Linked DNA regions of Homo sapiens: region 1 is linked to region 2. The links come from fine-mapping of genetic effects on plasma protein levels. A gene starts in region 2. The other region holds a variant in brackets. All regions are shown on one strand. Distances are from middle to middle.

Region 1 (4,396 bases), 390 kb after region 2:
GATAATAACTTTCACTTGGCACACAAAATCTATACGGATATTCAGAGCATTTGCTTTTAAAAAATGAATATTCTGTAGCCTGTGCTGCCTGTTTATTCTTATTTAGAGAATTTCGTCATTTTAATAATTTGGTAATATTTTACTGGTAGGTGCGGAGATATGTAAAAAAAAGTGTATTTTTTTCTTTTCTTGTGGATTTAAAAAATGTTTAGAATTTTTATTTGCAGCCTATAAACAATAATAGTACTTTATCCTTTCTTATTTTTGCCTATATTACAAGCAAGTAATTTCATTTAAATTGACTTTAAGCACATTCCTTTGAAAGAAACCGAAGATTGTTATCTTTGGCAATCCTGATTAGATTTCTTCCTCAGACAACAGTTTATTAAGTTTGTGCTATGAATGTGGGCAGGTGGTTTGACTCGGTGGAGCAAGTAGTGGGCACTCTAGAATTCTTTTTCTCCAAGTACTCAAAGGCCTTTGGAAGAATTTCCTCTCTGAGCATTTAGATGTTCCTTCTACTCTGTGAGGTGAAAGTGTGTTATGTGGTTTTATTTTTCACTTATTGAATGCCAATTACATGCCAGCCCCAGGGTTGTCTTACATGTGTTATCATATCTCATTTAATCTGAAAAAGGATTATGGCATAGGCACATAATATTATCTTCATCTTTCAGATAAAGAGGCATAAGTTCAGGTAAATACATATCCCAGTAGTTACACAGCTAGTGCCTAATGATAGCAGGATTTACCAGATCTGTCTGCCTTTTTCAAATATAACACCTTGCCTGGGAATGAGCTAGCAGAAGACTTTTAGAAGATGAGACTGGAGAAGTGGCTTCAAATTTCATTCTAATCAAGACACTAAGCTTTGCATTTATTTATTCCTTCATTACCATTTATTGGGCACCTAATGTGTGTCAAACAATCTAGGAATTGGCGACATTACAATGAATAAAAAGCATAGATCCCTGTCTTCCAGAAGTTTACTTCTGGTTATTGGAGGTTTTGAGCCAAGAAATGACATGATCTGGCTTAGCTTTTACAAAGACCCTCCTGGCTACAGTGTGAAGCATCACCTGAAGAGAGGTGAGGGCTTCAGCAGCAAGCCCAGTTAGGAGGCCACTGCAGCAATCCAGACAACTGCGGGGCTTGGACCACAGTAGTGGCCAAGATGAGAATTTGGATTTTATATGGACTTAGATGGAAACACCAATGGGATTGCTGAGGAACTGAATGTAGAAATTGCTTGTCCATGTTTTAACTGCAACTATGGTCAGCCTGCATCCTAAACCTATGCTTTTTAAGTTATGTTAACATGCTGAAGTACAAAGTGACTTCACAACTATATTCAATTTCATGAAAAACTGTAGCTCCTCCTTTTCAGCTCCTTAGGCTTAGGAAAGGAGAGTGCCTCTTGGAGCCTGGAAGAGGCAGGAGAGAGCTCTGTGTCCCAGAAGCATTTGTCATCCAGGCTGCAGTTAGCCAGCTGGCTCCTTCAAAAGCCACACACCTGGGTGGCAGCACATATGTGGTTATACCTGAGATATGTGGTGTGTCCATCTCAGAGCCACTCAAAGTCCATTTTAACCCTTCCCTATGGCTCCCCATGAGGAGGTGGGAAAACGAATCCTCTTAATAAGATTTAAGCACAGCTTCACATTTTTCTGTCTTTGTTATTTCTCAGAAATGCCATTATCAGTCTGAGTCAGAACAGATATTAATTCTTGGTCACAAAGTAGCACTTTTGGCATACTCTCACCATTTTTTTAACTTCAGAAACAGCTTCCTTGTAGGTAACTTTCACTGAGCTGACATTGTCAGCCAAAAATGGTTCTGGAGCCACTTCATCTGCCATAAAATTTAATAAGTCCAGGATACAAATTTGTGTATCACAAGTCAATAAAATTGCCACCAAGCTGTTTGTGTAGTAATAAGGTCAATAAATGTCATCCTCATTCAATTAATTTTCATTGACCTTAAGGAAATGACCTTCTATTTCCAAGTAGGAGAAGAAATTGGCCATGGAGAAGCATAACTGTTGCATCTGCTTTTCAGTTATTACATTACTGAAGATAGCATGGGCATCTAGCTATGCTTGTATATTCAGACTAAAAAGTAATCTACATGGCTTATCCTGAAGTAGACCCAAATGATTTAATTACAATTAAGATCATTGAAAGACCCCACAATATGCTTGGGGTCATCCTAACTGCATCTTCCAGATATGATCTAATATCTCACTGATCTTGGCCATCCATTGGGTTCTGCTGGGCAGGATATCAAGTTAAGGATGTGATGAGAGGCTCTCACTTTCTGGCCTGCAAACTGCATTTGTCACAACCCCTTTCTCCATTAACCTGGCCTGGAGATCAGCCCTGAAGTTGCTCCTTTGCTGTGCTGGCCATACCCTGAAGGAGACAACCACACCAGTGAGAGTTGAATGCCTCTGATTTCCTCCTTCCTCCACAAGGCAGATGAGGGACCCTGCCATTTTTTTATAAAATTCAAAATCAACTAAAGTATCACTTTTTTATTTTATTATTTTCCCAGGGCTGC[G/A]TCCAAAGAGGACTCTGCGGCTGGTGCTCTGGACTGCAGAAGAACAAGGTGGAGTTGGTGCCTTCCAGTATTATCAGTTACACAAGGTAAAAACCCAGCTGTGGATTGCTAAGCATTTGTACATGTAATATACAAAAATCCCTCTCATTGTCCATTTAAGACTTCAATAATACTTTCTGGTCAACTGGCCCTAGGAAACACCCTTGTATGAGCCTTCTCCCTCCAGCCCTGTGAATGAGAATGCACTGGTAAACCAATGATGCTGTGGTGTAGAGCTGAGGGCTTTTCTTCTTCTACACCACAGTCTGAGGCCAAAGAAAAATTCCAATTGCCATGCTGCCATTTTTTTCAAGTCTACCTAGTTCTGCTGTATTCATGTATGTCAGAGAAATAGTTATAGGCAAACATTCCCTCTCCCCACCGAGCCTATCCCCATACCTCAATGCCCGCCATATTCCCAGAAGCCTTGGCATTTGAGAGCCAGGTTCCAAGTCATTGAGTCTGCCAAGAGCATTGCCATGATGGTGGTGGAAATGGCAGCAGCCACAGGCCTCTGTCCCAGGAATGTGGAGGACAGCTTGGTTTGACACCAGCTGTCATTACACAAGTGTGAAGCTTGAAGCAGGAAGGTTATTGTGGATGGTCATGATTAGAAATACAAGACCACATGGAAGAGAGGGGATAGGGAGATTAATATCAAGAGCAAATTTTGAGACAGCAAAATATACAAGCTGAGAAATACTCTAGATCAAGTCAAATGTTAGTTCAAAGAGGAACTCCAAAATCAACGCGCATATGCTGGCAAGCAGTGATGGTTGCCCAGAGAGGAGCATTTGGTCTGCTGCTGCTGCTGGATGGTTTCCCCTGAATGTCCAGATGAGAAGAAGCAGATCTTGCAAGCTTAAATTATCCAAATCGGAGAAGGGTTTCTTTTGTGAATTGTGTGTATGTTATTTTTGACCTTTTTTTTTTTTCAAAGTCAGTCTCTATTACCCTATTTCAGTCAGTTAGAGTATAATGAGTTCAAAGTCATGAATTTGGTCACTGAATACAATTATTTACTGTACAAAGGACAACTTATGACCTATGCCCTACTCTTTCACCACTTTAGTTCTTTTGGCCTCAGGTGATCCTGGGGATAACATAATTCAAGACAAGTGTCCTTTGGTTGGTAGGTCAGTAACATCATTTTCTATGTGTTGTGGTAGACCACAACATCATATAAGGGTTGTTCTAGATTCAGCAACATTCAATTAATATTTTCTGAACATGTACTATGTTCCATACACTATGTTATGCATTAATGTTAGCATCAAAAAGATCTACCCTGACCTTACAAAGCCTACATTCTAAAGGACACTGACGATTAACTTGAATTATAAGGTGTTAAGTCTTTCTGGGAAAGAAATTACATCTAAGCTGAGACCTGAAGACTGAGTGGAAGTAAGCTAAGGAAAATGGAGAGGGAGGGAGGAGGTGGGTACTGCACCTTGGCAGAGGGACCTGTGTGTGCAAAGGCAGGAGATGAGACAGAGGAAAGCACACCAGAGAAATGGAAAGGAATTCAGAGTGGCTGCTGCATAGAATGCAAGATGCACAGTGGTAGGAGGGTGGAACAGAGACGTAAACAAGAGCCTGAACAAGAAGAACATATGAATCATATTTAGACGTGCGGACTTTATCCTCGAGGCAAGAGAGTAACTTATTTTTAAGAAGAAGCTCTAAAATTCTATACATATTGGACTTTATATAAAAAAAAGAATAGTTAAAAGAACTATTCTTTTTTTTTTTTTTTTGAGATGGAGTCTCACTTTGTTGCCCAGGCTGGAGTGGAGTG
Region 2 (4,324 bases):
TCGTTGTTACCCACCTTCTGAAGCATACTTCTGTCAGTTCAGCCATCTCAGCCTCAGTCCAGTTCTGTGCCCTTGCTGGGGAGGGGTTGTGGTCATTTGCAGGAGAAAACGCACTCTGGCTTTTTGGGTTTTCAGCATTTTTGCGTTGATTCTTTCTCATCTTTGTGGGCTTATCTACCTTTAATCTTTGAGGTTGTTGACTTTGAATGAGGTTTTTGTGGGGTCTTTTTTGTTGATGGTGTTGTTGTTGTTTTGTTTGTTTTTCTCTTAACAGTCAGGCCACTTGACTGCTGCAGTTTGCTGGAGATCCGCTCCAGACCCCAGTTGCCTCACTTTTTCCTGTATCTGGAGGTATCACTAGTGAAGGCCACAAAACAGCAAAGATGGCAGCCAGCTTCTTCCTCTGGAAGCTTCATCTTGGGTGGTTTCTGATCTGTTGCCAGCCCTCATACACCTGCAGCAGGTGGTTAGAGACCCCCATTGGGAGGTTTCACCCAGTCAGGAGGAACGGGATTAGGGACCCACCCAAAGAAGTAGTCTGGCTGCTTTTTGTAGAGCAGGTGTGCTGTACTGGGAGTGGGGGTGGGTGGGGCCCTCATAGTCTGGACCACCTGTATTCTCCACAGCTGGTAGGCTGGATCAGCTGAGTCCACTGAACCATAAAGATGGTGGTTGTCCCTCTCCAAGGCAACCTGTCCCAGGGAGATATCAGAGCTCTCTCCATAGCGCCCTGGCTGGAGTGACTGAAGCTCCTGCAGGGAGGACCCACCCATGAGGAGGAATGGATTGGGGTCCCACTTAAAGAAGCAGTCTGGCTGCAATTTGGCAAGGCAGCTGTGCTACATTGTGGGGGACCCTTCCTTGTATGGTCCATCTGTATTATCCACAGCTGGCAGGCTTGAATGGCTGAGTCTACTGAACTGCAGAGATGATGGCCTCCCCTCCCTCCAGGAGCTCTGTCCCAGGGAGAGATCAGAGCTCTGTTCATAAAACAGTTGCTGGAGGGGCTTAAGGAGGTCCTCTCTAGCGAGGAGGAATGACTTGGGGTCCCGCTTACAGAAGCAGTCTGGCTGCTTTTTGGTAGGGCAGGTGTGCTGCATTGTAGCAGAGGGAACCCTTCCTAGTTTAGACCGTCTGTATTCTCCACATCCAGGAGGCTGCAGCAGCTGAGTCGGCTGAATCACAGAGACGGCAGCTGCCCCACCTGCTGGGAACTCAAACCTGTCTCAGGCAGACTCCTATCCACTGCCATTGGCTGGCTGGGATTCCAAGCTGGTGGGTCTTAACTTGTGGGGTGTCATGTAAGTGGGGCCTGAAGAATGGTATTGCTTGGCTCCCTGGATTCAGCCCCCTTCCTACAGATGGATTTCCTGCCTTGCTGATGATTGTGGCCAGAGTATGTAAAACTTCTGGGCCTCTTTGTATGTGCCTGAGTGGCTGCTCTGTCAAGACAACACACAGCTCTGTGTATCAGACTCAAGGCCCTGGTGGTGTGGAGTCATGAGGGGGTCTCTTGATCCACAGGTTGCAAAGATTCATGGGAGAAGCATGGTTTCCTGGGTTGCACAATCACTCACCACTTCCCTTGGCTGAGGGTGGAGGTTCCTTTGGCTCTGTGCTGCTCCGAGGTGGGCTCCCCACCCTGCCCAACTTTTCTTCATTCTCCATGGGCCGGTGGTTTGCCTAGTCAGTCCCAATGAGAGAACCTGGATATTTCAGTTGAAGGTACTGAATTCACTTGCCCCTTCTCATTCCTCCCTGAGTGCTGCGGGCAGGGGCTTCTAATTGGCCATTATGGATTGATCTCCCTGCAGTGAAGTGTTCTAAGTAGGAAGAACACATGGTATTGTGGAAAATCAACATAGCATGGTGGCTCAGAAATAGATTCTGGAGCCAGGCAGGTTGCTTGGTTTGGAATTCTGGTCCTGCAACTTACTGCAACCTCTCTATGCCTTAGTTTCCTCACAGTTTAAAGAGGGATAAAATAATATCTATAGGTCTATTTGCGAGGTTTTAAAATTCTTGGAATAGTACCTGGCTCATTATACATGCTATAGAAATGCTTATTCAATTAAATAAATAAAAGCATCTTTGGTAAGATAACTCTGAACATTGTATGGTTTAGTAGAGGATGCTGACAAGAATAAATAATTAAAACATATCATGAAGTAAGCATAAAAGATAGTGGTAATGCAAAGATGCGAATGAGCTCTGCTTCCTGTGATTAGTGTGAGCAGACAAATTCACTGTACTCAGAAGCTTAAAGCCTAGCGTGGGAAGCTGACATGAATGAAAACCAACGGGAAAAAATGTTAGAGTAGAGGTGTAAGCAAGAGTGATTAATTTCAACTTGAAAGCAAATGGGGGAGGTTTCACAGAGAGGGGCCCAGCATGTTGGTTGATTGCTTGGGCTCCAGAATCAGGCCAGCTCAGTTTAATGCTGACTTTGTACCTCACTGGTTTTGTGACTTGACCTCTCTAATCCTCCATCTCCTTATCTGTACAGTGGGGGGAAATAATAATGATAATAATAGGTAGCTCATAGGACAAATAAGAATTCACAGTTAATGCATCAAAAATCTTAGCACAAGGCACTCAATAAATGTGAAGCTTTTATTGTTATTACGAGTTGAAACTTGAGTGGGAAAGAACTTCGTTCACATTAAACATGAGAAAAGGCCCAGAAGTTGAAAAGCATTTGACATAATTAAAGAACAGCAAGTCAGTGCCACTTAAACGGTAATCCAACCACCGCCAGTCAGTGAACAGCTTTTTACTGCTCCATGAACAGGTAAGTATAGAAATTGTGAGTAAGCATTTAGAAATAAAAACAACAACAACAACCAATAATTGAAAAACTAATTTTATACTTTTTGGCATACTCATTGTACACTTGTAATAAAAACTGGGCTTGTAGTTTTTGTCTCTTTTCTTATTTGCTAGCAGGTTTTGATTTGTATTTTACAGAAATAATGGTCCATGTCAGATTGGAAATAATAAAAACTTGTCTTTTACCCTTGATAGTTTGAGAAAAAAGTAATTCAGTGGGGTTAGATATGGCATCCGAGAGATGATTCGGGAAAGGTGGGCCAGGGCCATGTTTATGTGGACCCTCCAATGCCTCAGAGTTCACACTTGTTTCAGTGGGCAACAGGACTAGTAAGGTTTAGAGGGACTGTTAACCGAAGGTGAGTGGACTTTGCACATTTTATGGTATTTTTTTTTTCCCAGTAGGCATGTGCTTATTCTTTCTTTTCTTTTCTAATTAAAAGTTCTGTTTGGTTTTTTTAGTTAAGAGGAGAGACTGGAACTGCTCAGTGTTTCACAAAGATAACTGTTTGTATTTGATAAGAGTTTCGTTAAACAAAGGAATTTGCACTTATCAAAACATAAAGCATTGAAAACACTGAGCACATACTCTGTGACCAGAATGCGTGTGACTTGTTGAGATAAGCCACACCGGGTAATCAGATGAGTCTCCTTTCTTCTTGGGCACCCTCATATAATTCAGGCACAAACGAAAGAGAAAACGCTTTTTCTGATCTCTCAGTTCGGGTCATCTCTGCCTTCCATCATCACCGCCTAACAATCCTACACCTGGCAGGGTGGGAAAACGGTTTAATAATCTCTTCCCTTTGGGAGGCGTTTGACAGCTCAGAAAGCATGGCCTTTACTCAGGCTCAGAGACACACAAAAACCTTTCACGTTTTCCTTTCAGCTTCGCAGCCCCGTCCTTCTCCACCTGCACGGGCACCCACTGAAGCACAGGACCCTTCTGCCAAGCCATGAGCCTTCTCAGGCCCCTGCCGCCCGCCTCGCCTGAGGCTGCGCTTCTGAAAAGCACGCGGCCCTGGCCTGCGCACCACCCAGTCTGAAGGCGACGCCCCTGCACGAAGGAGTCAGGCCTAGGGGCTCGGGACCCAGGGCGACACTCAATTTTCTAACAGGAGCCACAGCCCAGAAGCTGAGAAGCCTTCCGGCCGATCTGTGGCCCTGAGGTCGCCCTTGGAGGGCGAGTGAGAACCCCCCAGGCGTTCCGGAGGTGGCCCCCAGCCCGAACCCGGCGCCCGCCCCGGCTTCCCGAGTCAGGTCTTTGCCCCGCCTCTCGGCCCCGCGGCCTGGCCGGCAAGCAGGGCTGCAGTCACGGGGCGGCGCGGAGGGCCCCAGCCCAGTCAGGGGTGTGGCCGCCGCCACCGTAAGGCTAGGCCGCGAGCTTAGTCCTGGGAGCCGCCTCCGTCGCCGCCGTCAGAGCCGCCCTATCAGGTGTGTTTGCAGCCGAACTGGCAGTGCCCGCGGGCGGCTGGGCCGAGGCCTTGGCTCCTAC

Which allele goes with the higher level. Alleles are on the strand shown, and positions count from the first base shown. The strength of an association depends on the size of the effect and on how common the allele is.
For the plasma level of the protein whose gene starts at base 4,103 in region 2, allele A in region 1 goes with a lower level than allele G (strong association).

Evidence for each region. PIP is the posterior inclusion probability: the model's chance that the variant is causal. Protein levels are from antibody-based Olink assays in UK Biobank. Linkage for the fine-mapping came from a reference panel and not from the study's own genotypes, which makes the PIPs less certain.
Region 1: its variant is fine-mapped to the plasma level of the CPQ protein (UK Biobank, PIP above 0.99). The variant lies in the coding sequence of CPQ. If it changes the protein, the assay may bind it differently, which can mimic a change of level.

The regions. Positions count from the first base shown.
Region 1 is chr8:97,026,850-97,031,245 of GRCh38, forward strand. It overlaps CPQ (carboxypeptidase Q), which reads left to right. Exons shown (of 8, transcript NM_016134.4): 6 at 2,554-2,645. All of the region lies in intron 2 of LOC101927066 (a long non-coding RNA gene), which reads right to left. Among named protein-coding and RNA genes, the nearest start is that of TSPYL5, 250 kb to the right of the region's middle. The variant G/A (reference allele first, on the strand shown) is at 2,560.
Region 2 is chr8:96,641,140-96,645,463 of GRCh38, forward strand. CPQ (carboxypeptidase Q) reads left to right here and starts at 4,103. Exons shown (of 8, transcript NM_016134.4): 1 at 4,103-4,263. RefSeq lists a silencer at 3,978-4,324.